Linked DNA regions of Homo sapiens: regions 2, 3, 4, 5 and 6 are each reported to be linked to region 1. The links are microRNA targets in miRTarBase. Many come from high-throughput screens and were not tested one by one. Region 1 holds a microRNA gene; each other region holds the end of a gene's coding sequence.
What was found. The annotated mature microRNA hsa-miR-873-3p reads GGAGACUGAUGAGUUCCCGGGA and lies in region 1 at 1,711-1,732, opposite strand. An mRNA with a match to its seed (bases 2 to 7 or 8) in the 3' UTR can be bound and repressed. Matches are read on the target gene's strand: a 7mer-m8 pairs with bases 2 to 8, a 7mer-A1 pairs with bases 2 to 7 and ends in A, and an 8mer does both.

Region 2: miRTarBase lists SESN1 as a target of hsa-miR-873-3p. Seed matches in the 3' UTR shown: 7mer-m8 at 3,783-3,789.
Region 3: the mRNA of HES7 is a reported target of hsa-miR-873-3p. The part of its 3' UTR that is shown has no 7-base or 8-base seed match.
Region 4: miRTarBase lists DCTN4 as a target of hsa-miR-873-3p. Seed matches in the 3' UTR shown: 7mer-A1 at 2,409-2,415.
Region 5: miRTarBase lists KLHL38 as a target of hsa-miR-873-3p. Seed matches in the 3' UTR shown: 7mer-m8 at 3,892-3,898.
Region 6: the mRNA of MYLK3 is a reported target of hsa-miR-873-3p. Seed matches in the 3' UTR shown: 7mer-A1 at 1,405-1,411.

Annotation. Positions count from the first base shown.
Region 1 is chr9:28,887,179-28,892,425 of GRCh38, forward strand. It overlaps MIR873 (microRNA 873), which reads right to left and starts at 1,777; the gene lies at 1,701-1,777. All of the region lies in intron 2 of LINGO2 (leucine rich repeat and Ig domain containing 2), which reads right to left.
Region 2 is chr6:108,982,898-108,988,144 of GRCh38, forward strand. SESN1 (sestrin 1) reads right to left here. Exons shown (of 10, transcript NM_014454.3): 10 at 1,412-4,733. The coding sequence ends at 4,647. It also overlaps a transcript of ARMC2 not described here. Among named protein-coding and RNA genes, the nearest start is that of ARMC2-AS1, 61 kb to the left of the region's middle.
Region 3 is chr17:8,117,564-8,122,810 of GRCh38, reverse strand. It overlaps HES7 (hes family bHLH transcription factor 7), which reads left to right. Exons shown (of 4, transcript NM_001165967.2): 3 at 381-468; 4 at 774-2,219. The coding sequence ends at 1,240. It overlaps ALOXE3 (arachidonate epidermal lipoxygenase 3), which reads left to right and starts at 4,297. Exons shown (of 16, transcript NM_021628.3): 1 at 4,297-4,325; 2 at 4,508-4,967. The coding sequence starts at 4,821. It overlaps TRK-TTT3-5 (tRNA-Lys (anticodon TTT) 3-5), which reads right to left and starts at 3,656; the gene lies at 3,584-3,656. It overlaps TRQ-CTG1-5 (tRNA-Gln (anticodon CTG) 1-5), which reads right to left and starts at 3,059; the gene lies at 2,988-3,059. It also overlaps TRL-TAG1-1 and TRR-TCT2-1. RefSeq lists silencers at 631-740, 961-1,420, 2,361-2,570, 2,941-3,030, 3,161-3,210 and enhancers at 3,731-3,830, 3,981-4,050, 4,131-4,210, 3,932-5,131.
Region 4 is chr5:150,707,056-150,712,302 of GRCh38, forward strand. DCTN4 (dynactin subunit 4) reads right to left here. Exons shown (of 13, transcript NM_016221.4): 13 at 1,385-4,307. The coding sequence ends at 4,094. Among named protein-coding and RNA genes, the nearest start is that of RBM22, 8.6 kb to the left of the region's middle.
Region 5 is chr8:123,641,139-123,646,385 of GRCh38, forward strand. KLHL38 (kelch like family member 38) reads right to left here. Exons shown (of 4, transcript NM_001081675.3): 4 at 3,304-4,890. The coding sequence ends at 4,601. Among named protein-coding and RNA genes, the nearest start is that of KLHL38, 10 kb to the right of the region's middle.
Region 6 is chr16:46,703,013-46,708,259 of GRCh38, forward strand. MYLK3 (myosin light chain kinase 3) reads right to left here. Exons shown (of 13, transcript NM_182493.3): 13 at 1-4,751. The coding sequence ends at 4,692. Among named protein-coding and RNA genes, the nearest start is that of ORC6, 16 kb to the left of the region's middle.

The DNA of each region.
Region 1 (5,247 bases):
AGTTGAAAATAGATGCTCAATAGAGATGTCTGCTGAGTTGATGCTGACATATAAGTTCCATGTTATTGATCTACATGTGGGAAAAAAATTGAAAGGATTTTTTTTTCTCTAGTTATTGAAAGTCAAGGGTCAGATGAGCTCCTTGAATGAGGCCTATTGTTCTAACTTGCCCCTGGTCTTAAAAAAACTGTTGGCATTAGGATGAACTATACATTCCAGAAAAGTGATTCTCAACTCTCTCCTGATTGTACCTGATGACATGTTGCAGAAGCCAGTAATTTGTTACTAATATTAAAGAGTAATGTTAGTGGATGATTTGCTTTTATTAAAAAAAAAGAAGGGCATGTTCAGGGTGACATATATGCCACCTTATTGCATTCTAGTAAGATAAGCTTTTCAGAGGAGACATCACAACAAGCTACTGGAAATAAAATACAGCCAACACATTGTTTTATCTCAGCCACATCCAGCAGTGTGATCACACAGACACAAGGATCATGGGTTTAGATGTGGGGCAAAAAGACAAACAAAAAGGCTGAGAACTGTAATCCTAGATTGTGAAAGAGAAACAGAAAGGTCTACTGACCAGTGATTGACGATACTTCTGTCTGAAAACATGCTTTCAATCGATTTAATATTTTTCCATATTTATGCCAGGATAATTAAAATCAATTGAAGAAATCCTACAGAAATAAGCTCCAACTGGATTTAATTTGCAAAAAATTTAAAGGCTGCACATTGTTTTAGAAAAAAGACAGGTCAAAATGAAGGTAAGATTTGTATTACCAGCTTACATGTAAGAACTTCATTGAATGTTTTGAAGATAACATTTTGAGGAATGTAGAAAAACACTGAGAGGAACTTTATCACTAATTATTATAGAATATTTAACACAAATATAACCTTTAGATATGATTCATTTTTCTAAGTGAATTTGAAAGTATTTAGGTATGACTATGAGTAGAGTCTCTGCTACTCACTAATGTAGGATACACATCATCAACTTCATACATTTACTATATTCCTCCTTCAGTAATTGAATTTGTCACTCTTGTTAAAAGAAGACCATAAACAGATTATAAAGGATCAACCTTATGTGGTTTCATGAAAGGCTGCTTTATGAGATTTAACAACAGATTCATGCTATCAATGCTGATGCTAAATGTGGTCCATTGAACAATCCTGAAATATAAAAAGACTAATTACATAAGTTGATGTTACACATGAACATGAACAGAGAAAATATTTTCTCAGAAAAAAATTAGATAACAATCTCAACATTTATATACTTAAACTCCTGATTAGATACAACCAAGAAAAAAAGTTTAAGGGAATACATATGATTTTTAATTTTTTCCTTTCCTGCAAGGTCTATAAATTATCTTTCACATAAGCACTGGCACCATTCATTTCATTGAATAATTTATGTCTTGTAGAATGTCTGCTGAGTTTACAAAGATAAGATCAGGACTATTAGAGATGCTTCCCTTGGTGGGATTCAACACCTCAAGTAAACCTACTGACATCCATGTTGAGTGGACAAGTTAACCCTTGCCTAACTGAATTATTTTGCATTTTCAACATTACTTCCTTGTTTAGAACTTAAACTTATACTCAGAACTTGGAGGAACTGACAACAGTGGAAGGTACCAGCCATAAAATGTTGTCCATTGCAAAGCAGTAGAAATGAGTAGGAAGATTTGTGGGTGTTCCCGGGAACTCATCAGTCTCCTGTTCATTTTCAATAGGAGACTCACAAGTTCCTGCAAATGCACACAAACTTATTCTAAGCAGGAACCATTTGCAGATAAGCAGCTGTTCATATTTCCTCCATTTCAAGTGAATACAGTAATCTGTTCCCCTGGAGTATCTTCAGCAGCTTGCCTGGTGCTTGTGATTCTTTTCAAACAGTTTTGTGGGCATCCCAGACACTGGTCACCTTCATTTATGTATTCAATAAATATTGATTGAGCATCCCTTAAGCAGGTCACTGTTCTTGTTTTAAAGATAGAGTGATAAATAATTTCTTGCCTTTAGGGCAATTCTATCAAACATTAGTCCAGTTCACTTTCAATAATGCCTGAGTCAAAGTATCAGTCTCCAATGCCAAATGAGAGGCAGTGGTATTTAAATTTGTACTTCCTGGTGCAATGGGAAGAATCTAGCAAAGGGAACTACGAGATCAGAATTCTAGCCCTACTGCAGCTAAGACATAGCAGTATTTCCATGTCACACCATTTAACATGTTTTTTGCTTCAGTTTTTTTTTTAATTTTAAAAATTATTATTTGGGCTATTTTACTTTTCATTCTGGATATAAATGTGTGATGATGATATAATAACTGGAAACAAAGAATGGAAGTGTTTATACATAAATATAATGTTATTGAAGTTGTCTTTTTCTATTAAAAAACCTTTGTTTCAGCAATTACTGTAAATTTTAAATGTATTATTAATAACTGGAATCTTTTCTACCAGCCAACACATAAATTATTTTTCTCATATAAAAACAAATGGTTAATTTGCCCATTTAATGGCTCCTAACATTGAAACTTATTTTTATCAGCTTTAATGTCTCCATTAGATCTCAGACTCTAGCTCTAACGTTCTAAGAAGACAGGCTCAGTTCTTGACCAGGAAGGTGGTAATCATCAAGGTAAATATTTTTCCAAGACCAGGTGTTAGTCTTTGCAGTTTTTCTGAAATTTTAAGCTCTAGAAAATTTTGCCTATGTTAGTTTGTTCAAATGAAAAAAATAAATATTCCACTATCTCTTCTCCCCATAAAAAGCATGTGTATAGGCAATTATGCCTGTTCACACACAGGGTCTCTGTCCATAAAGGTTCCCAGCTGGTAAAATTTCATGCACTCATGCTTGGTACAGAATAGCATATAGATCCATTTATTTTACTACCATATGCCCTTGTAAGAGGCAGTATGTAAATACTTTATTGAAGAGGTTTAATTTTTAAGTCCTATCTAGGAATTGGCAGAAATTAACTACAGGTTTTCTTGGTTTTTTGTTTTGTTTTGTTTTGTTTTGTTTTGTTTTTGTGGGGCAAAAGAAGGGGTTTTGATCTCAGTAGACTTTCCTGTCCCTGGAGCTTGGATTTCTGTTTCTGTCTCACTGTTAAAGGACTGAGACCATATCTCCATATAATTAGGTTGTGCAGGTAAGCAGTTACTGTCTTTTCCTAAATGGGTACACACTTGTGTACCAGGGGCAGCACTGCCATGGAGACCTGATCAAAGGGGCCTGCCTGGTATTTAATGAGGTGGAAGAAGAATGCCACAATGAATACAGCCTCAACTACTCTGAATTATGAGGTTTATGTGGTTGAGTGTAGAAGTTTCTCCAAATGGACCCAGAGTCAGTTACTTGTATGGCAGAGGAGTTTGGAGGACAATGGGACATTCTCTCTTTAATCTCTACTAGGGCTGGGGAAGGAAGTAGACCCCACTGAATAACCTCCTCATTATGTGGCTATATTAAAATTGTTGAATATCTATTTATGTAAATCATATGCTATAAAGGTTATTTGCTGTTAAAGTCTCCAATTAAAATTCCAATTGACAGTCAAGAATCCTTGAAATAGCCTAATCAAATAAGAGTAGATCACCACTTTATCCAAGGAATAAGCATCCTCTAGGCAGAGGCACCATCCTGTTTTTCTTTTTTCCACACCTAGAAAATCTTCAGCAGCTAACAAAATCAACTGACTAGTATATGAAATGTATTTGTAAATAAATAAATAATCAGCAACTCAGAGAACATTTATTAAAAGTTTTCTAAAGGGTAGAGTAGGTGGCTAAATAAATGTGATACAATCATTTCCTTTATAGTGTTTGCATTAACATTTTACCTAATAATAAAACGTAGGTTATTTGTGGCAAATGCATATCACAGATGCAGATATACAAAGATGACAAGGAGAAACACTAAATAGCAATAAATGGTGCAAACCAAGAAACAGAGGAGGAAATGTTGAAGCAATTGTGTAGCAGTACATAAAAGTTTAGAGTTCTACAAGCAGAGACCTGTATGTAACTATCACACATAGAATAAGCAATGTATTCTATGTGTGCCTCACATTATATTTAATCTCTCTGGGACTTAGTTTTCTCATTTCAAAATGTGGATACTAGTAGTACCTATCTCATAGTATTTTATCATTCTTATCAGCATTATTGTCATTATTGAGGGTAAGGAATGGAACAGAGAGAACAAATTGAATGTTATAGCCCTGTTACTGAATTTACATATTAATGCTAAAATCTTGAAGCAGGAAAGGAATTTCTGGAGAAAAAAAAAAGAGTATTAGTCATATTAACACCTAACCCATTATAATCCTGAAAAATCTACTAATAACATTGTCATTATAATGAAGTCTGGTACCTTTGGGGTGAGTATAGATGCTATTTCTAGGGAACTGTTTCCACATTTCTCAAAAAGTTATTTAAGATGATGAAAACTATACCCATTCCTTGTACTTCTATTAAGAGAAGCCATTCCTTAACATCTTTATAGCTCTTTGACAACCTTTCTGCTACTTATTATTATCAATGCTGAAATAAATTATTTAGAGAATACTCATGCAATTTATGAGGTCACAATAAAGAAAATGGTCAAAGTCACAGAAATACAAATATTTCTTAAATACAGAGCAACATATTTTAGAATGAGAATTTAGACTACGTGAATGCTGTAAGGCACTTAAAAGTTTATATGAGTTTTCTATTTTAAGATACTTTTTTTATAAACACTCTAACATTATTCATGTTACTACCTCTTTGGTTAATAAGCATTTTCTATCCTTATCCCAGTGTCTGATCTTTAGAGAAACAAAATAAACTGTTGGAAATAACAAACTGGGTCTTTCTTTATAAATTTTTTTACCTCATCAAATCACTATGTTCATAAAGTATACTACATGGTTGAAATAGGTGGAGATAAATCTGAATTTTAAAATTTTCACTCCATGCTAGACTGCAGCGATGCACCTATCCAGGTTTTTGATTAGAATTATGAAAAACAAGCAGTCATAATGTACTGAGCTCTAAGAGGTCAAGTTCTCAAGTTTGAGATTTGCTTAGGCTTATTTCTCCATAGTGATTGCCACTATGCCCATACACTTTACAGAAAATGTGTGAAGAGATCATGATAAAATATGAATTTATGTATTGATTCATGCTTTCAAAGATATTTGTTTGACACTAAGTTCATTACTGATAAAAATGTTCACCAATG
Region 2 (5,247 bases), not on the chromosome of region 1:
GCAATCTCCGCTTCCCAGGTTCAAGCCATTCTCCTGCCTCAGCCTCCAGAGTAATCCCAGTGGGTTACCGGTGCACACCACCATGCCCAGCTAATTTTTGTGTAGAGACGGGGGTTTTCCTATGTTGGCCAGGATGGTCTCGATCTCCTGACCTCATGATCTGCCTGCCTCGGCCTCCCAAACTGCTGGGATTACAGGCATGAGCCACCACTCCCAGCCCCATTTTTTAGTTATTTGGTTTTTTGAGTTGTAGGAATTCTTCATATATTCTGGATATTAACCTCTTATCAAATATATGATTTGTAAATATTTTCTCCTATCCCATAGGTTGCCTTTTCACTCTGTTGATTATGTCCTTTGATGCACAGACATTTTTAAGTCTGATGTAATTCCAATGGTCTTTTTTTCTTTTGTTGCCCATAATTTCTGTGTCATATCTAAGAAATCATTGCCAAATCCAATGTTGTGAAACTTTCCCCGTGTTTTCATCTAGTTTTACAGTTGTCAGTCTTACATTTAGGTCTTTGAGTTTTTTAATATATAAGGGTCCAACTTCATTCTTTTGCATGTGCATATCTAGTTTTCCTAGCACCATTTGTTAAAGAGACTGTCCTGTCCTTATTGAGTGGTCTTGGTACCTTTGCTAAAGATGATTTGGCCATATATGTGAGAATTTATTTCTGGACCCTATTCCATTGGCCTGTATGTTTGACTTTGTGCCAGTTCCACATTATTTTGATTACTGTTGCTTTGCAATATGTTTTGAAATCAGGGAGTGTGAGACCTCCAACTTTGTTCTTTTTCAAGATTGTTTTGGCTATTCAGGGTCCATTGAAGATTCTAGATGAATTTTGGCATGGAATTCTCTACTTCCGTGAAAAATGCCATTGGGATTTTGATAGAGATTGCATTGAATCTACAGGTCACTCTGGGTGACCATGAGATGTCTTTCCATTTATTTGTGTCTTTAATTTCTTAGTAATGCTTTACAGCAGGGGTCCCCAACCCATGGGCCATGGACCAGTCCTAGTCTGTGGCCTGTTAGGAACTGGCTGCACAGCAGGAGGTGAGTTGTGGGCAAGCAAGCATTACTGCCTGAGCTCTGCCTCCTGTCTGATCAGCTGCAGCACTGGATTTTCATAGGAGCTTGACCCTATTGTGAACTGTGCATGTGAGGGATGTGGGTTGTGCACTCCTTGTAAGAATCTAATACCTGATGATCTGAGGTGGAACAGTTTTATCCTGAAACCATCCCCCACTGCACCGTCCACCCTGGGTCCATGGAAAAACTGTCTTCCATGAAACCAGTCCCTGGTGCCAAAAAGGTTGGGGACTGCTGCTTTAGTTTTCAATGTGTAAGTCTTTTGTCTTAGTCTGTTCAGGCTACTGTAACAAAATACCTTAGACTGGGTAATTTATAGATAACAGAAATTTATTGCTCACAGTTTTGGAGGCTGGGAAGTCCGATATCAAGGATTTAGTGCCTAGTGAGTGTTTTCTTCCTCACAGATGGCACACTCTAGCTGTGTCCTTTCATGGTAGAAGGGGAGCTCCCCAGACCTCTATTAAAGGGCACTAATCCCATTCATGAGAGCAGAGCCCTCTTGATCTTATCACCTCCCAAAGGCCTACTTTTTTAATATCACCACATTGAGGATTACATTTCAGCATACAACATACATCAACATACAAATGTAGGGGAAGACACAAACATTCAGCCATCACATATCCCCTTGGTTAGGTTTATTCCTAAGTATTTTATTCTTTTTGATCCTATTGTAAATGGAATTGTTAAATTTTTTTGGATCATTCATTGTTAGTGTATAGAAATACAACTGATTTTTGTGTGCTGACTTTGTATCCTACAACTTTGCTGAATTTATGCTTCCTCTTGATCACACCATCCTCTGCTGGGGAAGAGCTAGGGTGAGCAAAATCCACAAACTTTCCTAGCCTTTTGGTGCGGCCTTTTCCTGGCTTTGCATTTGCCTAAATGCTGCAGTTTCCCAATTGGTTTCTAGAGTTCTCACAAAGATATTCTGGCCCATATATTGTTAACTCAGCGTCTCTGGGAGAATGAGGACGTGGAGTTCCCAAGTCCATCATCTTGCTGACATTACTCCCATCTACCAGTGTTAGCAAAAAACTAGTATGATGATTCATATATGATATTCACATATACAAATATGCTAGTAACATTTCTGATTCATGTATGATATTCACATATATGAATATGCTAATAAAATTTCAGAGTATATTGATAAAAAGTGCTTATCCAACAAGTTTTACTTATCTACTTATCTCCTGGTGGTCTGTATCAAAATCAATCTCATTCTTAGAGATGATAAAGTTTGGCCTAATAAAAAATTTTCCCAAATACGGCCAAAACAACTCAAGATTTTAACTCTTGAATCCTGGGACCCTCAACCAGAAATCTTCTCATGATTATTTTAGAAGAAAATTTTCCTCTGGTTGGGGAAGGTTTTGATATCCCCAGTGTAATGTACCTTCCCTAATTATTTTGGAAACTACTGGTTTCAAAGATTATATAGTAACATTAGAAATCCTGTGTGTTTAGTTTTGAGAAAACACTCCAACAGGAAGCACCTGCTAAATGGAAGGCATTGAAACATTAACTTTGTATCACATGCACTTTTATTACTTTAGGTATAAACATATTTTTTAACTCATTAAAATTTTGATTTCAATTTCTAAGTGATTATAAGTTCCAGTGGACTAAATGCATTCTAGTTGATCTTGTTTTGTGATCACTCTACTGCTGATTAGAATCTCTACTAGAAATTTTGTATTTTCAAGAGGAGGAACAAAGAGCAGAAATGGGATAAGTAAAATTTTAACTATCTTCTTGGGTTCAATTGTATTGCTCTGGTGAGAGAACTCAGCAGCAGGCAGAAGAGGACAAAGGCATGATGCATATTCAATGAGTAATGCACTTATAAGTAAGTTTCTTTAAATATAAAACATATTGAAGATAATAATACTCTATTCCTAGCTAAGGTTATAGTCTTGTCTTCTCATGAGAGTAAATATCCTTGAGGACAGGTACCACCTCTGTTCAAAATTGATCCTTCCCAACCCCTACTTCCACACTACCCCATACATTTGTAGGCAGGCACTAGATTGAGCTCAATAAATGTTTTGAGGAGTAACTAACAGAGTTATCATCACAACAGCTTCAGTTAAACTTAGAGCTATTTCTACTTGTCTGATGAGTGTCATTTTTTGTTCTGTAGTCTCTCCCTAATGAATCCTTCTTTTTAGTAATTCTTAAAATTCTATTGGAACTCTAAAACAGTTGAAAAGAGAGCAGGCATAGGGCCATACCAGTCATTTCCAAGATAAAAATGGTCTCAGATAAGATTCTAAAGAAAGTCCACTCCTCTTTGTATGTTTCAAAATGGCTTCAAGTGTTGTTTTGCCATTTAAGTGTGAATGTACTTGGCTTATGAAAGTAGATAGAAACTCAAAATTATTACTAATAGTGAAGTCATGATTTTTTAAGAGATTGAGACAGCAAATAAAATTGGAGAAAAATTCTTCTTTATTTAAAAATACCAGTAATACTGACAGACTTCAAAAGCAATTCACGCTTCCAGAATACAAAGTACTTAATACATATTTTCAAACCTGTTTGCATTTCAAACAAAGTTAGCGTTTTTGTAAATCAAATTTGATAACCCGACTAAAAATATTTTCCAGCTTTATTATTTAAGGAGCTGCACAGCCTTTAAAGTGGGGACCAGGAGGCAGGCAGAGGCAGAGAGACTGAATGCACCCAGGACTGCGCAGCAGTCTACAGCAACATGTCCCACAACTTTGGTGCTGGAAACACAAGTAATGCACAAGACAGCTGCCCTCCAGTGTCAGGATCCTGTGAAACAGCATATCAAAAGATCGCCAGCTTCTTATAATTTACACACTTTCATTTAGGATTGCTTTTTGAAGAAAATCTTTAAGAATGCCATTTTAATTTAATATCCAGAACCCTGAATTTAAAAAACTAATGAAAGAAATTAACTGTTACCATCAAAATGGTTGTTGCTGAGCTGTGTGAGTAGGAATTCTATGCTTTTTTAGATGCAAGAAAATTAACACATAATGCAAGTTTAATTTGAAATCACACAAGTTATGTATGTAGGCTCAGATAGTAGCAATGTTCACTTTTATTACTAATAGCTTAACTGAAACAGCCATCTATTCATTCCTCCAGCAGGAATAGCAGCACCAAGATCTTCTAAAATTCTTTACATATAAAGCTTAAGTCATTATCCAAGTCCCATTCTTTGCATGCTCCAATTCTTGTTATCTTATTTAACATAAAAGCAACAGGATTTGGAGAGTTACTATTTGCTGTATTAAAACAGTTACACAGCATCTTGTACTGTCAAAAAGCAAAATACTGTGAATGGCAGCCTGTCTTCACAGCTCTAAACTTGAAGCTGCCAAACAGTCACTGCTTGTGCCAGCAGTGGTTTTCCACAGAAAAATAGCAGAAACTAAAGGAATCATGGCACAATGGATTTCTGAATTATTTTGTCTACCATTGGTCCTGGGGCTTAGTACCTTCCCCCTTGTAGACTATATCTGCTGATCATTCCAGAATCATCTTTAATGAAGGAAAGGCATCAGGTCATATAGCGGGTAATGGCTCTCAGAGCATAAAGGAGTTCTGCTTGCATCCTAGCTTCTATAAGAAGCAGATTAACATGAACCTGAATATAAAATACAACATCATATAAGGAAGGGTTACAAGCATTCACAATCAGTTTTTCAGTGAATCTAATGAACACATAAAATAAGTACACTTCCTACACTTCCTATGTAGTACAGCATAACTTAGCCTTGGGTTTGTTGAACAGATTATAAATTTCTCAAAACAGCAGCTATCTTTTTTTTTTTTTTTTGATGCACACTTTCACTCTTTCCCAGGCTCGGGTGCAGTGGCACGATCTTGGCTCACTACAACCTCCACCTCCTGGGTTCAAGCGATTCTCATGCCTCAGCTTCCCATGTAGCTGGGAATACAGGTGCATGCCACTATGTCCAACTAATTTTTTGGTATTTTTAGTATCACCATGTTGGACAGTCTGGTCTTGAACTCCTGATCTTAAGTGATCAGCCTGCCTTGGCCTCCCCAAGTGCTGGGATTACAGGTGTGAGCCACCATACCTGGCCTAATATTCTTTTTGGATAGATTGAGCTTTCATTTATATTTTATCATGTTTC
Region 3 (5,247 bases), not on the chromosome of region 1:
TTTCGCTCCCGGGGTCGGTCAGTTTCACCCTTTGGGTCTCTAAGTGTCCGGTTCCCCCTCCCCCACAGCCAGCCTCTGATGAGCCAGCCTCTGTTATGTCGGGTGGTTAATTTCATTCCCTGGGTTGCGGTTTCAAATCTCCTCCTCACGCGTTGGGCATTGGTTCCAACCCCTAGGATTGGACAGTTTCGTCTCAGGGTGGGCCAGGACTTTCCTTGGTCATCTCCACTCCGCATTTGGTCGCGCGTTCTGTGGGCAGTGCGCAAATGCGATCGGGGGCACCACCAGCTCCCGCATCCGTCCCTCCCTTCTTCCCCCTGCCACTTTCCCCCTTTCTCCCCACCCCTTTCTGTCTCTGCGCCCTCCCCTCCCGTCTGTAGAACCTCCGGAACCCGAAGCTGGAGAAAGCGGAGATATTGGAGTTCGCCGTGGGCTACTTGAGGGAGCGAAGCCGGGTGGAGCCCCCGGGTACAGCGCGGGGGTGGGGCAGCGGAGGGAGGGAGGGGGGACGCCAGGAGGCTCCGGCCGGGGCAGAGTGGGCGGGCCCTGCGGTGGATGGTGGGCTTGGGGAGTGGCCGGTTCTGCTCCGAGGCGAGGTTAATAACACCCGCGCGTGTCTGTCTCTGTGTCTCCCTCATTTTCTCCCTCTTTCCGTCCATCTGGCTTCCTGTCTCTGTGCGCCTGTCCGGCCTTGGTATCTCTGCGCCCCGCCCCTTCCCTCACCCCTGCCGGGCCCCTGCCCTGCCCACCTGTGCTCCCGCCGGCCGCACCAGCCGCCGCGGCTCCAGGGGTTCCCCGGTCCCCAGTCCAGGACGCCGAGGCGCTCGCCAGCTGCTACTTGTCCGGTTTCCGCGAGTGCCTGCTTCGCTTGGCGGCCTTCGCGCACGACGCCAGCCCGGCCGCCCGCGCCCAGCTCTTCTCCGCGCTGCACGGCTATCTGCGCCCCAAACCGCCCCGGCCCAAGCCGGTAGATCCGAGGCCTCCAGCGCCGCGCCCATCCCTGGACCCCGCCGCACCGGCCCTTGGCCCTGCGCTGCACCAGCGCCCCCCAGTGCACCAGGGCCACCCTAGCCCGCGCTGCGCATGGTCCCCATCCCTCTGCTCCCCGCGCGCCGGGGATTCTGGCGCGCCGGCGCCCCTCACCGGACTGCTGCCGCCGCCACCGCCGCCTCACAGACAAGACGGGGCGCCCAAGGCCCCGCTGCCCCCGCCGCCCGCTTTCTGGAGACCTTGGCCCTGAGCCTTGGGGGGTGGTGGGGGCGGGGTCTAGGGGTGGGGTAGAGACTCCAGCCCGAGGGCAGCAGAGGGACCCGGGCGTCCGGGCGAGCAGGTGTTGGGGAGGGCAGTGGGGCGCGCGGGCTCAGCGCGCGGGTGAGATGTGGTCTATATTAGAGTATCTATATAAATATATATTTCCCTGGTTCCTGTCCCTTTTCCCTGCCCCAACTTCTCCCTTGCGTCTAGGATTGTACTCTCTCTGCCCCTCAGCCCAGTCCCAGTCCCTTCCCGAGTCCCTAGTGCATGGAATAAAGTGGTTATTAAATCCCCGTGTGTCCCCGAGCCAGGGGCCTGCCTTTATCTCGACGTCCACGCCCACTTTCCCTTCCCTTCTGTCTCCCACCCTCAGTCCTGCTCTCCATGGCCCAAGCCCCGGGGCAGACAGGTAAGTAAAGAAGAGAGCAGAGCGGGAACTGAGATCGAAATTGAAACCAGGTGGAAAGAGAGAGATAGGGTAGGGGGAGAAGGGATGGGGGCCTTTAAGAAAAAAACGGATAAAAAGGAAAAATTGAAATAAAATCGACTCTGGTGGGATTCGAACCCACAACCTTTGAATTGCTCTATTCGTCACTAGAAGTCCAATGCGCTATCCATTGCGCCACAGAGCCACCCGACGAACGGCGGCGTCTTGTAGCTTACGGGTACTAGAGTGGGAATGGGGCAGGGTTGGGGAGCGGGGCTAAGGGACTTGGGCGGGACATGCCAGGAGGGCGCGGTTTGGATCTCAGAGGCCAAGCCAGGTAGAGGTAGCGGGCGCAAAGCATGTTAGCCAGGTGAGAGAGAGGGCGCACATGGGTCGAAAAAACAGGGAGGGAGAGCAACCGAAAATGGCTGAGCGAGCGAGTGCAGAGCTCCGGCTGCCCGCTTGGGGGGTGTTTCCGGCTCAGGCGCTCCCCACTCCCAGATATAGTCCCACCCAAATAAACTAGTTTTGTTGTAAATTTCTGTGTGTTTTTGTCTCTTCTCGTTTATCTGTTCTGCCATCTGCTGCTATGCGGTCCACAGTCTCGATGGTTCTTCATTTCCAGTCTAAAAGATGTGGAAAAGGAGACGAATCAATTTGGCACTCTTAAGATTTGCCCCATTCCTTACTTCTAGTCTCTTAGGAGGACAACGGGGACAGTAAGTTTTCGTGCAGGTAGCGTGGCCGAGCGGTCTAAGGCGCTGGATTTAGGCTCCAGTCTCTTCGGAGGCGTGGGTTCGAATCCCACCGCTGCCAGGCTGGAGTTTTTCTGGTGGATTACGCACCTGCTACAGTTCTGTTAACAGTTCTGTGAGGTTACACCTATTTACATGCAGAAAGTAATTTTACGAATTCCCCTGGTAATGGTTTCACCATCATCTTCCGTGTTTGGTCTTCCAGAGAGATCATAGGCCTGCATCCATCCCAGAAGCTAAGACCTGATGGTAACTGCTGAAGCAATATTTCGTTTCTTCATAACATCTCTATTATTTCGTTTCTTCATAACATCTCTATTTTAACATGTTTTCAAATGTTAGCTCAACTTCCAACATATTTAAATAATTTATTGTACGTTCTCTTAACACTGTGTTATAGGACTCAATTATCCGGTAGGAAAAGCACAAATAATTGGTAGTGTCCTAGTTTACTTTTTTTTTTTGTCGTATTATCTTGGGTCATAGGAGTATCCCCTCTGTGAAAATCAATTAACAATATTCAACATGCTGATATTAAAAGAAAAGCTTCAAGGTTCCACCGAGATTTGAACTCGGATCGCTGGATTCAGAGTCCAGAGTGCTAACCATTACACCATGGAACCTCCCTCGTGGTGTCTTTCAAGATTGTGTACATTACTGGACATTCTATTTTGCGTGTCTTCCACACCCGTCACTTAAAACGAAAACAAAACAAAGTCTGCTGTTGGATATGGTAGACACCGTTATCGAGCACTTGAAATATATGAATTCAGATGTATTGCCAGCTTCTAAATACACATCTTCTTTTGAAGGAAGGCTTTGTACAAACAAAAAGACTTAAAATTTCATTAATATTTTTAGAATGTTGATTATATGTTAAAATAAGATTTTGGTATATTAGGGTAAGTAAAATAGATCCGTGAAATTAATTTCGCTTGCTTTTTATTCTTTGTAATGTGGCTACCAGAAAATGTAAATTCGATAATACGGCTCGCGTTTGTACTGTTTTAAAGTATGTTTATTACCCTCCACCGTCGTTTGCTGTATTTTGTGGAAATCAAGTTTCTGTATCACCTAGCTTTAAAAACTAGTAACTATTTTTGTTACCATTTTATGCGAAGTGCGGTACCCAAAAGCAAAGACATGCCGCCCGAACAGGGACTTGAACCCTGGACCCTCAGATTAAAAGTCTGATGCTCTACCGACTGAGCTATCCGGGCTCTTCACGAGAGCTTTACTTTTTGCTTATAAGAGGGTTCTCTATAGGAAAAGCCAGGCTTGTAGAACCGACAGAGGATTTTATCTGTGCAGCATAGAATATTTTGGCACAGATTTGGAAGCAGCGGGTGAAGCTCGCCTGCTGCTGATTGAGCTTTTTCTGCCTCCCGTTCTTAGAGCCCCCGCCGAGGCTGCGACGCAGGGACTGTACCATAGTAGAGGCTGGAACAGTGCGGCGCCGGAACCGGCCGCGCGGGGCCGCTGCGGGCTATGGGCTTCTCTGAGAGGTTCCTCCCCAGTCCCTAGTGGCCCAGATCCCGGACACCTGGGCTCCCGCCCAGGATCCTGCAGGCCCAGGGCGGTCCTGGAGCGGAAAGAATGCCACGCGGGGCATTCAGACCCTGTTTGCCGGCGCTGTATTTCGCTTTCCTGACCTGCCCTACTCCAGAGCAGAGAATGAGGTCGGGCGTGCCAAAGGCTGGGGACAAAGAGGGCCATGCGTGGGGGGATCGGTGTATGGGGTGACAGGGAGCTGTTCCTGACCATTTGACATGTGCTGGAATGCGTGTGCGACTCACCTGCGTGTGGCTGCAGTCACGTGTGATTTATGACCAAGTGCAACTCTCCACTGTTTAGTGATTCACACGGATGATTCACACGTAGGAATGCAGGTGCCCTGTGCTCATCTCTGCCTGGGAATGGGGAGGAACAGATCTTGGGGGACATTGGGGAGTGGGCGGACAAGCACTCCAGGGCATCAGTCCGGGCCGCTGACCAGGCGGAGGGCAGTGTCCCAATTATACAGGCGTTACCTCCTTTTCTCCATCTCAGCATCTGATCCCTCCCTCCGCAGTGGAACCCAGGCTCCTGATATCCATCTGGGTGAGCCAGCCAGAGGGACCGGCTGTGTCAGAGGCAAGCAAACAAGTATTAGAGTGCAAGACTGTGGGCGGAGAGAGGAAGCCCGAGCCGCCAGCAGGGAGCTTCGGAGAGAGAAAGCCCAGGAACATCCCAGAGAGAGCTGGGCCCATCCTCAGCCCTACCCAGCCCCGCAGCCCCTAGCCCTCCGCCCAGAAACCCAGCCCTGTCCGGCGTGCCGCTCTTCTCCTCCAGGCCGGCTGCTGCTGCGGCCAGCGTTGCCGGGGCATCCCTTCCTCCTTCCCATCATGGCAGTGTACCGCCTGTGTGTGACCACTGGTCCCTACCTGAGGGCCGGCACACTGGACAACATCTCTGTCACACTGGTGGGCACGTGTGGTGAAAGCCCCAAGCAGCGGCTAGATCGAATGGGCAGGGACTTCGCCCCTGGATCGGTGAGTACAAAGGAGACAGGGAAGCGCGACCTCAGAGGGGCAGGGGCCGCAGGCGGGAGGAGTATTCCTCCTGGACTCTTGAGATCCTGCTGAACTCAGGATACCGGCCCTGACCTCCTCACCTTCCCTATTGAGGTCCCTGTCTTTCCTGGAGATGATGAACTCCATCCAGGCAGGACTGTGGAGAGGAAGGAGCGTTGGACAGGGAGTAGAGGGACTTCCCCTGGCTCCTAAACTCCTCCCATAATTGACCGTGGGCTTTGGGCAAGTCGCTTCCCCT
Region 4 (5,247 bases), not on the chromosome of region 1:
TTGATTTATGATTAAGGCGGTGAAGCTGTCTAAACTTGGGATCCACAGAAAAGAATGTTAGCTCTGGCCGGTGGACATGACTTCCTCCAGGCCCCTCAGGAAGCAACTTAGAACAATGAACAGTGGTCAGAGTTCAGTTCTCAGTTTCCCCTTATCTGAGGTTTAAAGCTGGTGAGAGTTCAGGTTTCTGAAAAGTTGGGGACATGTATGTTACCCTTAGTTTCTATAGGGAACAAAACATCTCACTCTGACTTCCTTGGCTATTGTGTTCAGCTACTTCTTGCTTATCAGGTTGCTCATTAACTTCTTTGGGCTAGCTAGGTGCCTAGAATTCCCTTGAAGGAACTCAAGATTTCCCTTTATTTCCATGCATGGAGGGGCCCACAAGCCTCCTAAAAGGGGGTCCCTGCTCTGCCTCAAAACCAGGAGTGTTGTGTTCTGGAAACCAAGCAAAGCCTTTCAAGAAGGGAGAGATAAACTGTCAGATCTACTGAAAAATTGCATAGTTAAGGACTGAGAACTGACCCTGTATTTAAGTGTGGTGATTGCTGGTGACCTTGACAAGAGCAGTTTCGACCAAGTGGTGGCGGTGAGAGTCTAACTGGAATGGGTTCAGGTGAGAATGGAGGAACTGGAAGGTTGAATTAGGGTTTTTTTTTTTTTTTTTCCCTTGAGACGGAGTCTCGCTCTGCTGCCCAGGCTGGAGTGCCGTGGCGTGATCTTGGCTCACTGCAAGCTCCGCCTCCCAGGTTCACGCCATTCTCCTGCCTCAGCCTCGAGAGTAGCTGGGACTACAGGCACCTGCCACCAGGCCCGGCTAATTTTTTTTATTATTTTTAGTAGAGACGGGATTTCACCTTGTTAGCCAGGATGGTCTCGATCTCCTGACCTCGTGATCTGCCCGCCTCAGCCTCCCAAAGTGCTGGGATTACAGGTGTGAGCCACCGCACCTGGCCATTTTTGTTTTTTAAAAAACTTTTACTTAAACAGAGACAAGGTCTTGTTAGGTTTTCCAGTCTTGTCTCAAACTCCTGGCCTCAAATCATCCTCTCACCTCGGCCTCCTAAAGCGCTGGGATTACAGGTGTGAGCGATCATGCCCAGTCAGAGTTAGAGGAGTTTTGCTGTACAGGGAGTGGAGAAATGGAGTGGCAGCTGAAGAGGAGAGTGAGGCCAATTTCTTTTTTAAGATGAGAGAAATCACATGCTAATGGAAAAGGGAAGGAGGGAGCTGCCGATGCTATCTGTGAATAGGTAAGAGGATGAGCTTCAGTGTTAAGAGGTGGGGCTGGGTTCCAACAGGAAGAGTATGAATAATTCATCTAAGTAAGAGGAGGGAAGGAACAGTTATGAAGGTACAGATGAAGGTGATGAGTGGCCACTGGTGGAGTCAGACCACTGTGTATATTGTAAAGGATATCTTTAGAAGCAATGACCCAGGATAAAAACTGGTAGAGGTCTAACAACATTTATATAATGGTTCTGTGAATATGTATATAAGAAGCTCAAAGCAACATCTACTTATATATTATGGTGAACTAACCTGCTAAGAGATTTTAGATTACTTCATTTAAGGAATGGAAGGGAGCATGCCCCACCAACTCTCTTAGCCAACTCTCTTAACTTCACGCTTGTCTTTTGGCTCTGAGCCATGCTACTTAGTATCTACATGAGAGCAAACAAAAGACACGCTCAAGCTTTGTCTGCTTTATTTCACTACATTAAGTTAAGCAATAAGGCAAAACAGTAACCTGTCATTCATAAAGATCAAGGAGTACCTCTCTGTCCCAAAAGGGACCAAAAAGGGTGTTTCTTCACAAATATGCATGACACTTAGCTCATTATGCTGATAAGCACTTCAAACAAAAGAAAAGGTCAGTAGGTGAATCAAGTAACAAATCCAAATTAACTTAGCCTAAGTTTCCAAAGCTGTAGTTTCAAGTGCTAATGGGATCTAACTTTCCTGTGGTGGTGCATACTGACTAGCATTAAAATTTTTGCACCTCATCTAATATAAAAAAGGCAACAAATACAATTCCTAATTCACCAGCTGCAGGTATTGAATCATTTCTACGAACACACAGAATACTAGCTTACACTAAAACCTATCTTGAGGAAACATTAAACCAGTGGCTCTATTATTCTGCAAGTTAGTTTGGCTTCTGAAGAAAAAAGTTTATGATCAAAGTGTTTTGTGTTTCTGTGTATGGGAATGATGAGACCCATACTTCAACATTATTACTTTGGGGAATAAATACCAGCTACCTGCCATAAACGCATGACATGTGTGTAGTCTATGCAAACGTGTAAACATATGAAGCTATTCTCTACTCTATGCCCATTTCCTCCACTGGCAAATATGGAGCAGTGATTTCACAGTAGGCTCTAGCAGGTAGTGAAATAAAAATTTGAGACTCTGTGGGGTCACAAAAAAATGAAACTCTTTCTATAGTCTGCAAATCTGTAATTACCCATCCCCCTGCTCCAACTCCTAAGAGGCTAAATGTTATTACCATAATGTTAGAGATGAGTATTTTCCTTCTTACACTGCATCACATATATTACTCTGTAGGACTGTTTCATAAAATTGGCTTGACCTTTGTACAATTAGTACAATTTAGTGTCTTTTAGAGTACAATTTAGTGTCTTTTAAAAGCTTCCTAAATATTTAAAACATTTTCAAGGGAAGCTTACAAGGACTATGTCCCATCTGTATTCTACATTATAATGTTATCTTTAATTTTTTAAGACTTAAAACAAGACCAAGGTAAACAAAAAATCTGTATTTTCCTCAAGTCTCTTGGCCACTTACTAACAATACTTTTACAGAAAACACGGTGCAGCTGGTGGTCTACTTTATCAAGTTTCATTTTAGAAAACATCATAGAAATTAAGGTTAGCAACCCAACTCCAGGATACCAAGTGAAAACAGCAAGTCTGCTGTTAGGCCAGAACTGTGGGCTACTTGCTGAACTATTTTATGGTTTACAATCAAAATGGTCTTATTTGACTCACCACATGACAAAAGTCTTAAACTTAGTAAGGGGGAAAGTTCTTAATATCCAGTTTTGGATTCAAGAGATTATAATAGTTAATTTCCCCTTCAAATCAATGGAAAGAATGCTAGTTGAGAATATTCTAAAAATCTAGCCTTTAAAATGTTTTCTGCATTCCAGAAATGAACCTGTCCACTCAGGTTTTCTTTGGGTTCTTTTCCAGGTCCCAAACAGAACAACTTAACTGAGTTAAAGAGGCAGAACAGGGAAGGGGTAGGAAGTAAGACAAATAAAGATTGCCCCCCTGTGGCAGCATTAATCCCTGGGTATTGTGGCAATATTGAAAACGAATGGAATCTGCTACCCCCTTGACATGACATGTAATTGTTTGCTTCTCAAATTCTTCTTAAAAGATCCATATTTTACTGGGAAAAAAATTAAGAACAACTAATACGTGTCCTGTATTCACTTAGAAAAAGAGGGCAAATGAGAGTGCCTTAACAACTTCACAGGTTTTTCCAATCATCATGATACTAAAGATAAAGTGACAATTCAGTTTTTCAGTTATATGGAAATCTATGGCAAAATGGCAGCCATTATGGCAATGAAGGGATATGTTTTAGACTGTTAGATGATATTTAACGGAATGCAGAAAGCAGTTGGTACATTGTGACCAATGCTGGATCATTAACAGCAGGTCTACCTTTGGGTTATCATTTAAGTTTCATCTGTGACATTGTGATCCTTAGTGAGATCAGATCAAGAGACAGTACAGAGTTTCTCAGGTGGTAAATACAATGCCATTCCAAGGAACACCCATCCCCTTTCCTAGGATGGAATTATGCTGCTGTTACTCAACGTGCAGGGTTCAGTGAGGGAGACACAGACTTACTGGTGTCAACAGGGGTGAGAGCAAGAGCAACAGCAGCTACCCTGTGTTCCCAATGCCTTGCCTATGCTCCCACTTTCTTAGCAATAGAATTCCGTAGTGCATGGGTACATCGTTATAAACAAGGCCTAATGAAGCAGCAGCTTCCACATTTTAACGCAGGTTTACGGTGATACTGTCCTTTGGGATCTGCCCTCCAGTGGAACCTTTTAAGGAAGAAGTGGGCCCAAGCTAAGTTCCACATGCTGGGTGAGCCAGATGACTTCTGTTCCCTGGTCACTTTCTTCAATGGGGCGAATGGGGGCTGCCAGGTTTTTAAAATCATGCTTCATCTTGAAGCACACGGTCACTTCACCCTCCTCACGCTGTGGTGTAACTTTGATGAAAATACCCACTTTGTTGGCCTTTCTGAAGGCTATAATGCTATGGAAAGAAAAAAAAGCAAGTATTAGGTAGATAAAAAAATCAGCCAAACCACTAAGACTTACAGTAAAAGTCTTTCACCTTATTCTTTCCTTCAGCACACACAGAAAACCTATAAACACTTTGTTCTTAACCTACCAAGTATTTTTTTGTTTTGTTTTGAGACACAGTCTCGCTCTGTCGCCCAGGCTGGAGTGCAATGGCTCCACCTTGGGTCACTGCAACCTCTGTTTCACGGGCTCAAGTAACTCTCCCATCTCAGCCTCCCGAGTAGCTGGGACTACAGGCATGCACCACCACACCTGGCTAGCTTTATATATTAATACGTATATTTTTTGGTGGAGATGGGGTTTCGCCACGTTGCCCAGGCTGGTCTCGAACACCAGGGCTCAGGTGATCTGCTTGCCTTGGCCTCCAAAAGTGCTGGGATTACGGGCATAAGCCAACACGTTGGCCATATATTTTTCTATGAGCTTATACTTTTCTGCTTTTCTAACCAACACAGATGGTACACACTATTCCATAACTTGCTTTTTTTTAACTCTGTTTATCACAAACACCTTTTGACGCTGGTATATACAGATCATCTACAATCTATGTAATGGTTGCACAGTATTCAATTATGTGTTTACCATAATTGGCATATACTGAGGTTGCTGACAACTTTTCTCTATTATAAACAATGGTGCTGCAAACATCCCTTTACATTTACCTCTGTGCAAATGCAATATTTCTATAGAACATAGACTCATACCGTGGAAAGTTATTTATTTATTTATTTTTTTGAGATGGAGTCTCGCTCTGTCACCCAGGCTGGAGTGCAGTGGCGCAATCTTGGCTCACCGCAACCTCCGCCTCCTGGGTTCCAGCGATTCTCCTGCCTCGGCCTCCTGAGTAGCTGGGATTACAGGTGCACACCATCACGCCCAGCTAATTTTTA
Region 5 (5,247 bases), not on the chromosome of region 1:
GGGTGCCCTGGATAAAGCCCTTTGCCCACCAGGCTTGACCCAGGTGGGCCATGTGATTTTGTACCCCACCGAGACTTGCCAGGCTCAGTTCAGGGTGGGTCAGGGGAAAGAAAGAGGGAAGGACAGAATGACTCCGAGCAGAGGATCTGGGGCACGGGAACTAGTGCCTCAACATGTTTACCTCTGAATTTGTGAAGGAGATCTCAGAGACGATGTAGATTCAGCCTCTTCATTCATTTACTAATTCATTAATTCATTTACTAATTCATTAATTCATTGACTAATTCATTAATTCACTTACTAATTCATTAATTCATTTATCATGTGTTTATGGAAGATCTATAATGTATGTGGCAGACACTGAGGGCAGCCCTGGGAATGCGGAGATGAACAGGACAGAATAAGAAGTCTAGAGGGGAAAACAGAGATCAAATAATTACGAATAGGATAAGAGTCTCAAAGGAGAAGAATAGGGGGCCGGGCGCGATGGCTCATGCCTGTAATCCAAGCACTTTGGGAGGCCGAGGCAGGTGGATCACCTGAGATCAAGAGTTTGAGACCAGCCTGACCAACATGGTGAAACCCTGTCTCTACTAAAAATACAAAATTAGTCGGGCATGGTGGCGCATGCTTGCAATCTCAGCTACTTGGGAGGCTAAGGCAGGAGAATTGCTTGAACCCAGGAGGTGGAGGTTGCAGTGAGCCGAGATTGCACCATTGCACTCCAACCTGAGCAACAAGAGTGAAACCCCATCTCAAAAAACAAGAAACAAAAACAAAAAAAAACCCAACAACAACAAGAAAAACAAAAGGGGGAATGATAGGGGTATTTAATAGGAAAGCTGACCCAAACTGGAGTGGGGGAAGCATGGAAGACACCCCTGATGCTGTGACTCTTAATCTGGTGTGCAAGGTGTAAGTCGAAATTATGTAGGGTGAAGAGGTAAGAGAGGTGTGTATCAGGTAGTGGCAACTGCACATGCCAAGGCCCTGAGGAAAGAGAGGAGGGTGTAAAGTAAAGAAGGATGGCTGGGCCTGAGACAACTTCAAGGAGTGAGGGTGGCAAAAGATGAGGCCAGAGAGATAGGTGGGTGCTGGATTAGGGAATGAACTAGAAGCTACATAAAGGATTGGGGGCTTTATGCAAAGGTCTCTGAGAAGCCATGGAATCATTTTAAGCACGGGCGTAACATGATCAGGTCTGTGTTTTAAAAAGATCACTCTGGCGGGGCGTGGTGGCTCACGCCTGTAATCCCAGCACTTTGGGAGGCCGAGGCGGGCGGATCACGAGGTCAGGAGATCGAGACCATCCTGGCTAACACGGTGAAACCTCGTCTCTACTAAAAATACAAAAAATTAGCCGGGCGTGGTGGCAGGCGCCTGTAGTACCAGCTACTTGGGAGGCTGAGGCAGGAGAATGGCATGAACCCAGGAGGCGGAGCTTGCAATGAGCCGAGACTGCACCACTGCAGTCCAGCTTGGGCCACAGAGCAAGACTCCATCTCAAAAAAAAAAAAAAAAAAAGATCACTCTGACTGTTGCTCAAGGAAGGCTCATGGGGTAGCAGTGGAAGCAGGGGGCACATTTTGGAGGCTGATCAGATGAGGATGGCTTGAGTTGGGGAAGCACCAGTGAAGATGGAGAAGCTGGAGGTGTTTGTGATCTATTTCCCAGGGGTGTTGCAGACAGGACCTGTTGATGGGTTATGTGAAGGGTGGGTGGTCAGGGAAGGAAGGCATCTTTGAGCAGAGACCTGGGGGCGTTGAGGGAGTGAACCATGTGGGTATGATGTGTGGGGCAAATGTTTTCAAGGGGAGGGCACAGCAAGTGTGAAAAAGAAAGAGGGGATGTGTTAGTCCATTTTCGGCTGCTATGAAGGAATACCTGAGGCTGGGGAATTAATAAAGAAAACAGGTTTATTTGGTTCATGGTTATACAGGCTGTCCAAGAAACATGGCACCAGCATCTGCTTTTGGTGAGGGCTTCGGGCTACTTCCATTCATGGTGGAGGGGGAAGGAGAGTGTATTAGTCCGTTTTCATGCTGCTGATAAAGACATACCTAAGACTGGGTAATTTATAAAGAAAAAAACGTTTAGTGGACTCACAGTTCCATGTGGCTGGGGAGGCCTCACAATCAGGGTGGAAGGTGAAAGCCACGTCTTACATGGTGGCAGACAAGAGAGAATGAGAGCCAAATGAAAAGGGAAACCCTTTATAAAACCATCAGCTCTCGTGAGACGTATTCACTATCATGAGAACAGTATGGGGGAAACCACCCCCATGATTCAATTATCTCCCACCAGGGTCCTCTCATATTATGGGAGCTACAATTCAAGATGAGATTTGGGTAGGGACACAGCCAAACCATATTAGAGAGCCAGCATTTCACATGAGAGGGAGCAAAAGAGAGGGGAAGTGTTCTATGCCCTTTTAAACAATCAACTGTCCTGTGAATTAATAGAGGTGGGACTGAGAGCCTGAATAGAGGGGGTTTAAAGAGACTAGGTTGGAACAAGATGCCAGCCAGAAGCTAAGGGGACAGTGTCCAGGCTGAGGAGCAGGGCTGGCAATCCAAGCAGGGTCTCTGAACCACAGCCAAGAGATCTGGGGAGCAGAGCAGAGCTTCAGACCCCAGGAGGAGAATCTGAAGTACAAAAAAGACAACTTAGAAAGAAGGAAAAGTCTAGAACATGAACCTGGAGAGCCAGATGGGGAGGAAGGCTACAGCTGGAGTGAACTCTGGTGCCAGGCTCAGGGCAGCAAGACTGATGGCAGATGCTTCCGTTGGTGGGGAGAGGACTTAGCTTACATTGTTAGGCTCAGACGGGCTGACCATGACAGGAGGGGAATGAAACCAGCCATGCAGGTCTTCCGTGCTCACAGCTGACCAGAGCGGTGGTTCTCGACCCTGACTGTACATTTCAAAAATCTGGGAAGCTTTTCAAAAAATACAGTGTTCTGCCCCCAGCCTCAAAGCATCCCTATTCATTTTTCTCCAATGGAGCTGGCCCCATTTTCAAACATCTTCCCAGATGACTGTGTTGTGCAGGCAGCGCTGAGAACTGCTGTTCTCCACTTCAGCTTATTCCTGTGTTTGGGACTGAGCCAGTGTGGGAGGCACCTTGAGATAACGGGAGCTATAGAGATAGTCAGCCCTGGCATCTGAGGGCAATGACTGCTGTAAGCACTGAAGGAATTTGTTGACTTTCCCCAGAAGAGCAATCCTCATAACACTGACCAAAATGAACATCCTGATTAATTATGCAGGTTTATAGCTCCCCAGAGGCTGCAGAAAAACATCATTTGGCACCAGAAACAAACTTTATTCTGGCAATGCAGGATAATTTTACAAACATTAGATACTGAATTGTGCATATATCTCTGGAATTTCAATGTACTACATCCATAGAATGCAGAAAAACAAGGTCAGGGCCAATTTCTCACGCTGCCACCTGGACCAAGCAGTTCCAGGAATCCTCTGGGTTCTCTCAGCCCTCTTGTTCCAGATTTCAGTGGTGTCCTGGGCAGATGTGGTTTTTGTCTGGATTTCTCTCTTTGGGGAAATGCTTCTAACCCATTATATGCAGTTTGGATGGGCTGTCAGTGACAACAGGTAACCCCACCTCTGTCTGTGGGGATGTGGTCCAGGACTAGCCAGTCCTGGCAACAGTGATTGGCTCAAGAGGTAGACATGGAATTCAAAAGAGGCCCATAAGCATTGTTTTTTAGGTTTAATATATGGATAATGGCAAAGTTCTCTCCTGAAGATATAAAGCTGGAAAATGAGTCTGGGTTTATCATTTGTCATTGTCCACACACTGTGTGGGTAAATGAAGAAGATTGCTAGAGAGAGAGGAAAACCTAGGGATGAGAGAGAGGAAGACAGAGGGGAGACTGAGAGAGAGAGAGAGAGAGAGGGGCAGAGAGAGGCAGAGAGACAGAGAAGAGAGAGAAGCAGAGAGGGGGAGACAGACAGAGAGAGAGAAGAGAGACAGAAACTGAGACAGAAAGGAGACAGGCCAGGCGTGGTGGCTCACGCCTGTAATCTCAGCATTTGGGAGGCTGAGGCCGGTGGATCACTTGAGACCAGGAGTTCGTGACCAGCCTGGCCAACATAGTGAAACCCTGTCTTTACTAAAACGCAAAAATTAGCTGGACTTGGTGGCACATGCCTATAATCCCAGCTACTCAGGAGGCTGAGGCGTGAGAATCGCTTGAACCTGGGAGGTGGGGGTTTCAGTGAGCTGAGATAGCACCACTGCACTCCAGCCTGGGCTACAGAGTGAAACTCCATCTCAAAAAAAAGAAAAAGAGAGAGAGAGAGAGAGAGAGAGAGAGAGACAGACAGAGATAGGGGAGAGAAAGAAAGAAGGGGGAAAGACAGAGACAGATGGAGGTGGGGGAGAGAGATAAGGAGAGAGGCAGAGAAGGAGAGAGAGAGTTCTGGCAATGCAATGCCTAGTTCCAGGCCTCCCGACTCTGGTACCTCAGTCTTGTGAGCTCTCCCTGCAGCCTTTAAGGGTTAAGCCCTTTGGAGCTGGGTTTGTGTCCCTGGCGACAGAAGGCATTTTGACTAGGGCAGAAGGTTTCTTGTCGACCTCATGGGAGGCCAGACGTGCGGGGTATGCACTGGAGAGTGAGGCAGGCATGGTCAAAGAGCTTGTGCGGCAGCTGTCCCTGGGATGTCCAGGTGTCCGTCTCGGGGTCGTAGCAATCGAAGGAGGCGGAGTCCTCAATGTTGCAGTCCGTGGTCAGCCGCCGCCCGCCCGTCACGTAGAGTTTGTTTCCCATCACTGTGGCCCCATGGTGCATCCTCCGGTCTTTCATGTCCGCACATTTGACAAATTTGTTGGATTGAGGGTCATAAGCAAGAATCCTCCTTGTGTAACCTGAAAACCAAATGACACATGGGCAAGCTCAGTGTTGCTCATCTGGGACTGGAGGTCAGCAGTCCTGGGACGCGTCTGACTCCTGCCACTGCGTAAGGCTGAGGCTGGGGCTCTGAACTAGCACGTGGGATGTTGAGCTAACCTGCCAAGGCCTGCTTTGTGGCAGAGTGGGGGCTGGCACGCAAATCTGCCTGACTCTGACCTTCACCCCAAGTTAAGGCAGCATATAAGCCATTCTTAGATTGGGAGCGGCCTCCTGATTCCTGTAACTTTCTCAGCCTCATTGGCCTCTTCCTCTCTCAAATGCCCACTCAAGAACTATGACAATCCTTTGGAAACTCAGAAGTGGGTTCCCCA
Region 6 (5,247 bases), not on the chromosome of region 1:
TCCCCCTCTCCCAATCACCCACTTTTCACACTCCACTGTTAAGTTTCTTGCATATCCTACGGTTTTTTAATGCACATATAAGCATATGTCTCTTCACAAATGGGATGATACCATATATACATTCTATAATTTAAGAAAAAATGGCTTTCAGTATATCTAGATCTATCTATAACAGCTGTGAGGTATTCCACTACATGGATGTGGCAAAATTCATTTAACTAAAACCAAACTAATAGGCATGTGTTGGTTGTTTTTACTGGGCCATTAGCAACAGTGCTATAGTAAACATCATTTTGAATAAATCTCTATACAATTGTTCAAGTACGGAGGGATAAATTTCTAGAAATAAAATTTCTGGATGAAAGAAAGCATGGGAATGACTTTTATTTGGATACATATCCATCAAAAGTGGGAGAATGCCATTTTCCCCACAGCCTCACCAATTCTTCACCAATCTGACAGGTGGAAAAAGTGTGCCCCAACTACCTTTTAGAGTTTCTCTGCCCAGCAGTTTCCAGTGACTGTACATGCAAATGGAAAAGTCCCATTAGAAATAGTTGACCCAACACAGTTGCAATCAAGTATTTGAGCTAAGTACACACCAGCAAATTACTAAAAATATCCAGAAAAACTCAAGCTTCATAAAACCTCAAATTTCAAAAAAAGGATGCTAAAATCCACATAGGTCACTTGTGTTGGCCTGGCCTAAACAGACCCCTCAAAGGAACTTTGGAGGGAAATTGTTTCTCTAGGTAAGGAATAACAGCATAAAGGGAAAAAAATTAAAATTGTTAGATACAGGATTCTCTCTAGATCTGCCCTGTCCAATATAGATGCCACTAACCACGTGTGGCTATTAAACACTTAAAATGTGGCTAGTGCAACTGCAGAACTGAATTTCTAATTTTATTTAATTTTAATACATGTAAAAGTGGATACTTCAGTTATTGGAAAACAGTGAGTTATGTTTCAAACAACTTGAGTATGTAAATACATTTTCCACAGTAAGTTTTAAGAAATCTAAATACAGATTAAGTACGTCTGATGAAAACCTAGCATCTGAATTGACAGGTTTTTTTTTGTTTTGTTTGTTTGTTTGTTTTTTGTCAGGGGTGGGGACAAAGTTTTGCTCTGCCACCCAGGCTGGAGTGCAGTGGTGTGATCTCAGCTCACTGCAACCCCTGCCTCCTGTTTAAGTGATTCTTGTGCCTTAGCCTCCCAAGTAGCTGGGATTACAGGTATGCGCCACCACGCCCAGCTAATTTTTATATTTTTAGAGATGGGGTTTTACCATGTTGGCCAGCAATCTGCCCACCTTGGCCTCCCAAAGTGCTGGGATTACAGATGTGAGCCACCATGCCTAGCCTTGACATGTGTTTTTAAGTGTAAAATATACCAGATTTTTGAGACTTAGTATGAGAAAAAGAATATAAAATATCTCTTTTTTTTTGAGACGGAGTTTTGCTCTTGTTGCCCAGGCTGGAGTTCAATGGTGTGATCTTGGCTCACTGCAACCTCCACCCCCTGGGTTCAAGTGATTCTCTGGCCTCAGCCTCCCTAGTAGCTGGTAAAGTATCTCAATTTTATGTTGATTACATATTGAAATATTTTTGATACACTAAGTTATATAAATTATTAAAATTGGCTTTCAATGGGTTTTGTTAGAGAAGCTACTAGAAATGTTTTAATTATGTGTATAGCCTGTACTATATTTTTGTTGGGCAGTGCTGCTCTAGATATGGTAATTAACTGTCTTTTTCTGGGGAGATGTTTCATAGCATTCTCCAGAATCTTAAGTCGAAAACAGGGTATGAACCACAATAGAACTATAAAATATACTCTCTAGCTCCTTCTGGAGGCTGCCCTCAAAAAACCTTTTAAAGAAAGATAACTGACATTTAAAAAATAAGACATTTTACCAAATCACTATCACTGTCTCATCAAAGGACAACTTTCAGCAGCTGTGTCTTCTGATGTTCATTCTTCAGCTGACCAACTTGGAGCAGGCCTAGACTTGCTGGTATTGAAACTGTTAGTTCCCAACAAGGGTTAGCCTTCCAGAGGAAACTTAACAACTTGAGAACTGCAGCAGCAGGATAACCTCTCCACCTGCCTACCTCTCTGTCAAAAAGCAAGAGCCTCTGTTACAGGACAAAAATCCTGAAAGGTAGTGAAACTGTTGCATGTCTAATTAAAATCTAAAATTCACAACATTGACTAAAGCTGCTCACCTGAGGCCAAGCACAGTGGCTCATGCCTATATTCCCAGCTCTTTGGGAGGCCAAGACAGGTGGATCATCTGAGGTCAGGAGTTCGAGACCAGCCTGGCCAACATGGCAAAACCCCATCTCTACCAAAAATACAAAAATTAGCTGGGCGTGGCAGCACACGCCTGTAATCCCAGCTACCTGGGAGGCTGAGGCACAAGATCACTTGAACCCGGGAGGCAGAGGTTGCAGTGAGCCAAGAACACACCAGTGCACTCCAGCCTGGGTGACAGAGGAAGACTCTCTCAAAAAAAATAAAAAACTAAAGCTGCTCACCTGAGGAAAAAAATGGGAATAGCACAAAAATCATGTAGAAGTAAGGAAATTTTAAAGATTGTATATTTTTTCATAATAAAGTACTCCTTTAACCATTTTACAAGTTGGTAAAGTATCTAAATATACATGTATACAAGTTCGTAAATGTGTTAGTTGAAGCTGGGTGTGGTGGCTCACACCTATAATCCCAGCACTTTGGGAGGCTGGGGCAGGTGGATCGCTTGAGCTCAAGACCAGGTTGGGCAACATGGCAAAACCCTATCTCCACTAAAAATACAAAAATTAGCTGGGTGTAGTAGCGGGCACCTATGGTCCCAGGTACTCATGATCGCCTGAGCCCAGGAGGCGGAGGCTACAGTGAGCCAAGATCACACCACTGCACTGCAGCCTGGGCAACAGAGTGAGACCCTGTCTCAAAAAAAAAAAAAAGTGTTAGTTGCTTGCCATGTTGAGAACAGTATGATTTCAGTGAAGGGATGACAGGGCTACTCTAATGCATATAGAAAAGTGTTTAAATGTACAGTGGACCCTTGAACAATGTGAGGGTTAGGAGTGCCTACCCCCTTGCAGTAGAAAATCTGAGTATAACTTTTGTCTCCCCAAAAACTTAACTACTAATAGCCTAATGTTGACTGGAAGCCCTATCAATAATATAAACAGTCAGTTAATACCCATACACACATATGTGTTCGTGTGTGTGTGTGTTTGTGTGTGTGTATATATACATATACTGTATTCTTTTTTTTTTTTTTTTTTGAGACGGAGTCTTGCTCTGTTGCCTAGGCTGGAGTGCAGTGGTGCAATCTTGGCTCACTGCAAACTCCACCTCCCAGGTTCAAGCAGTTCTCCTGCCTCAGCCTCCAGAGTAGCTGACATTACAGGCATCCGCCACCACGCCCCACTAATTTTTGTATTTTTAGTAGAGATGGGGTTTCACTGTGTTGGCCAGGCTGGTCTTGAACTCCTGACCTCAAGTGATCTGCCTGCCTCAGCCTCCCAAAGTGCTGGGATTATGGGCATGAGCCACCACACCCAGCTTATATACTGTATTCTTACAATAAAGTAAGCTAGAGAAAAGTTACTAAAATCATAAGGAGGAAAACATATGTTTACTATTCATTAAGTGAAAGTGGATCATCATAAAGGTGTTCATCTTCATCATCTTCCTGTTGAGTAGGCTGCAGAGTGGGATGAAGAGGAGAGCATGGTGTTGCTGTCTCAGGGGTGACAAAGGTGAAAGAAAATCCACATTTAAGTTGACTGCAATTCAAACCCTGTTCAAGGGTCAACTGTACATGTATATAGAAAGTGTATGTGTAGAGTGACAACATTGAGAGTGCTACAGCCTGAGGCAGCAGAAGAGCAGCTTTCCTTTATGTCTCAGGATGTATCATTTCTGTGTTTCTCAGAAAGCGGAACCTCATTACATTCTTATCTCTTTCATAAATTGCCTATCAGCTTCCAGACTTACAAGACCAGAAATTTATAACTAAGACAGAGGGGTTAAGACAGGCAGAATTAGGAGAGAGGTGGAGGTGTGTGGAGATTTAAAAAGCACAGTCAAAATGATCACTTCTTTGATTTGGCTATGAGAGTTGACATATTTTGACATTTCAAGTGATGCTGATTCTCAAAAGGGAGCATAAGTTAAAGCAAGTTTGAAGATCACTGTCCTAAATCCACATGGCTTAACACAAGAATGGGGTAGTACAATAAAATGTCAGCTCACACCTGAGCAAATCAAAATTCTAGGAATTCTTTGTACTGGAGGAGATAACACTGAATAACATGGCCCCTGCAAAGTAGTCTACTGAGTTCCTTAATCAGTGTGAGTTTAGAATTTAAATTCGACAGATGCAAAGTACCTACCTAAAGCATCCCTACACTTACCACCAAAAGTAGGTATATTTGAAAGGTACTCAGAGCATTTCACACGTAGTGATCTTACAAGGCAGAAAAAAACGTTCTTAGGAAGCTTCTTTACAGCCACTTTTCATCCACAAGGAAGGCAGCAGCCATAACCATTTTTACAAAATAAGTGGAATCAATAATACCAAAAAGCCAAATTATTTAAATGTTTGAGTCATCTCTTCACTTCACCACTGGCCTCAGTAATTTCTGGACCCATTGGAGCAGCAGAGTTGAAGATTAGGGAGAAGTTGGAAATTTCCTTAACCTGTTGGCAGCAGTCACCACATAGAAATGTTTCTTGAGGCAAGGAGAGAATAAAAGAAAAGAAAAAGCATGTATTTTAGACCAGTTGCCTTATGAAGAAACAATAAAAGGATTTAAGTGAGTCCAGCCACTGGGGTTGGTTTAAATCTGATACCTAAAGGGAAACAAGTTTCTAAAATAATTATAGAATAGTCACATGACTTTCAGGGGCATGTTGGGAGTAAATATGAAGTGGGAAGATACATCATCCTGCCCTCTTTTTTTTCTTTTTTTGGGGAGGGGGTAGGGGGGTCAGGATGGGGTCTGGCTCTGTTGTCCAGGCTGGAGTGCAGTGGCGTGATCTTGGCTCACTGCAACCTCTACCTCCTGGGCTCAAGCAATCCTCCCACCTCAGCCTCCCAAGTAGCTGGGACTACAGGCAACCACCACCACGACCAGCTAACTTTTGTCTTGTTTGTAAAGATACAGTCTCACTAGGTTACCCAGGTTTATCCTGCCCTTTTCACATGAAAAATGGAGCACCCTAGAA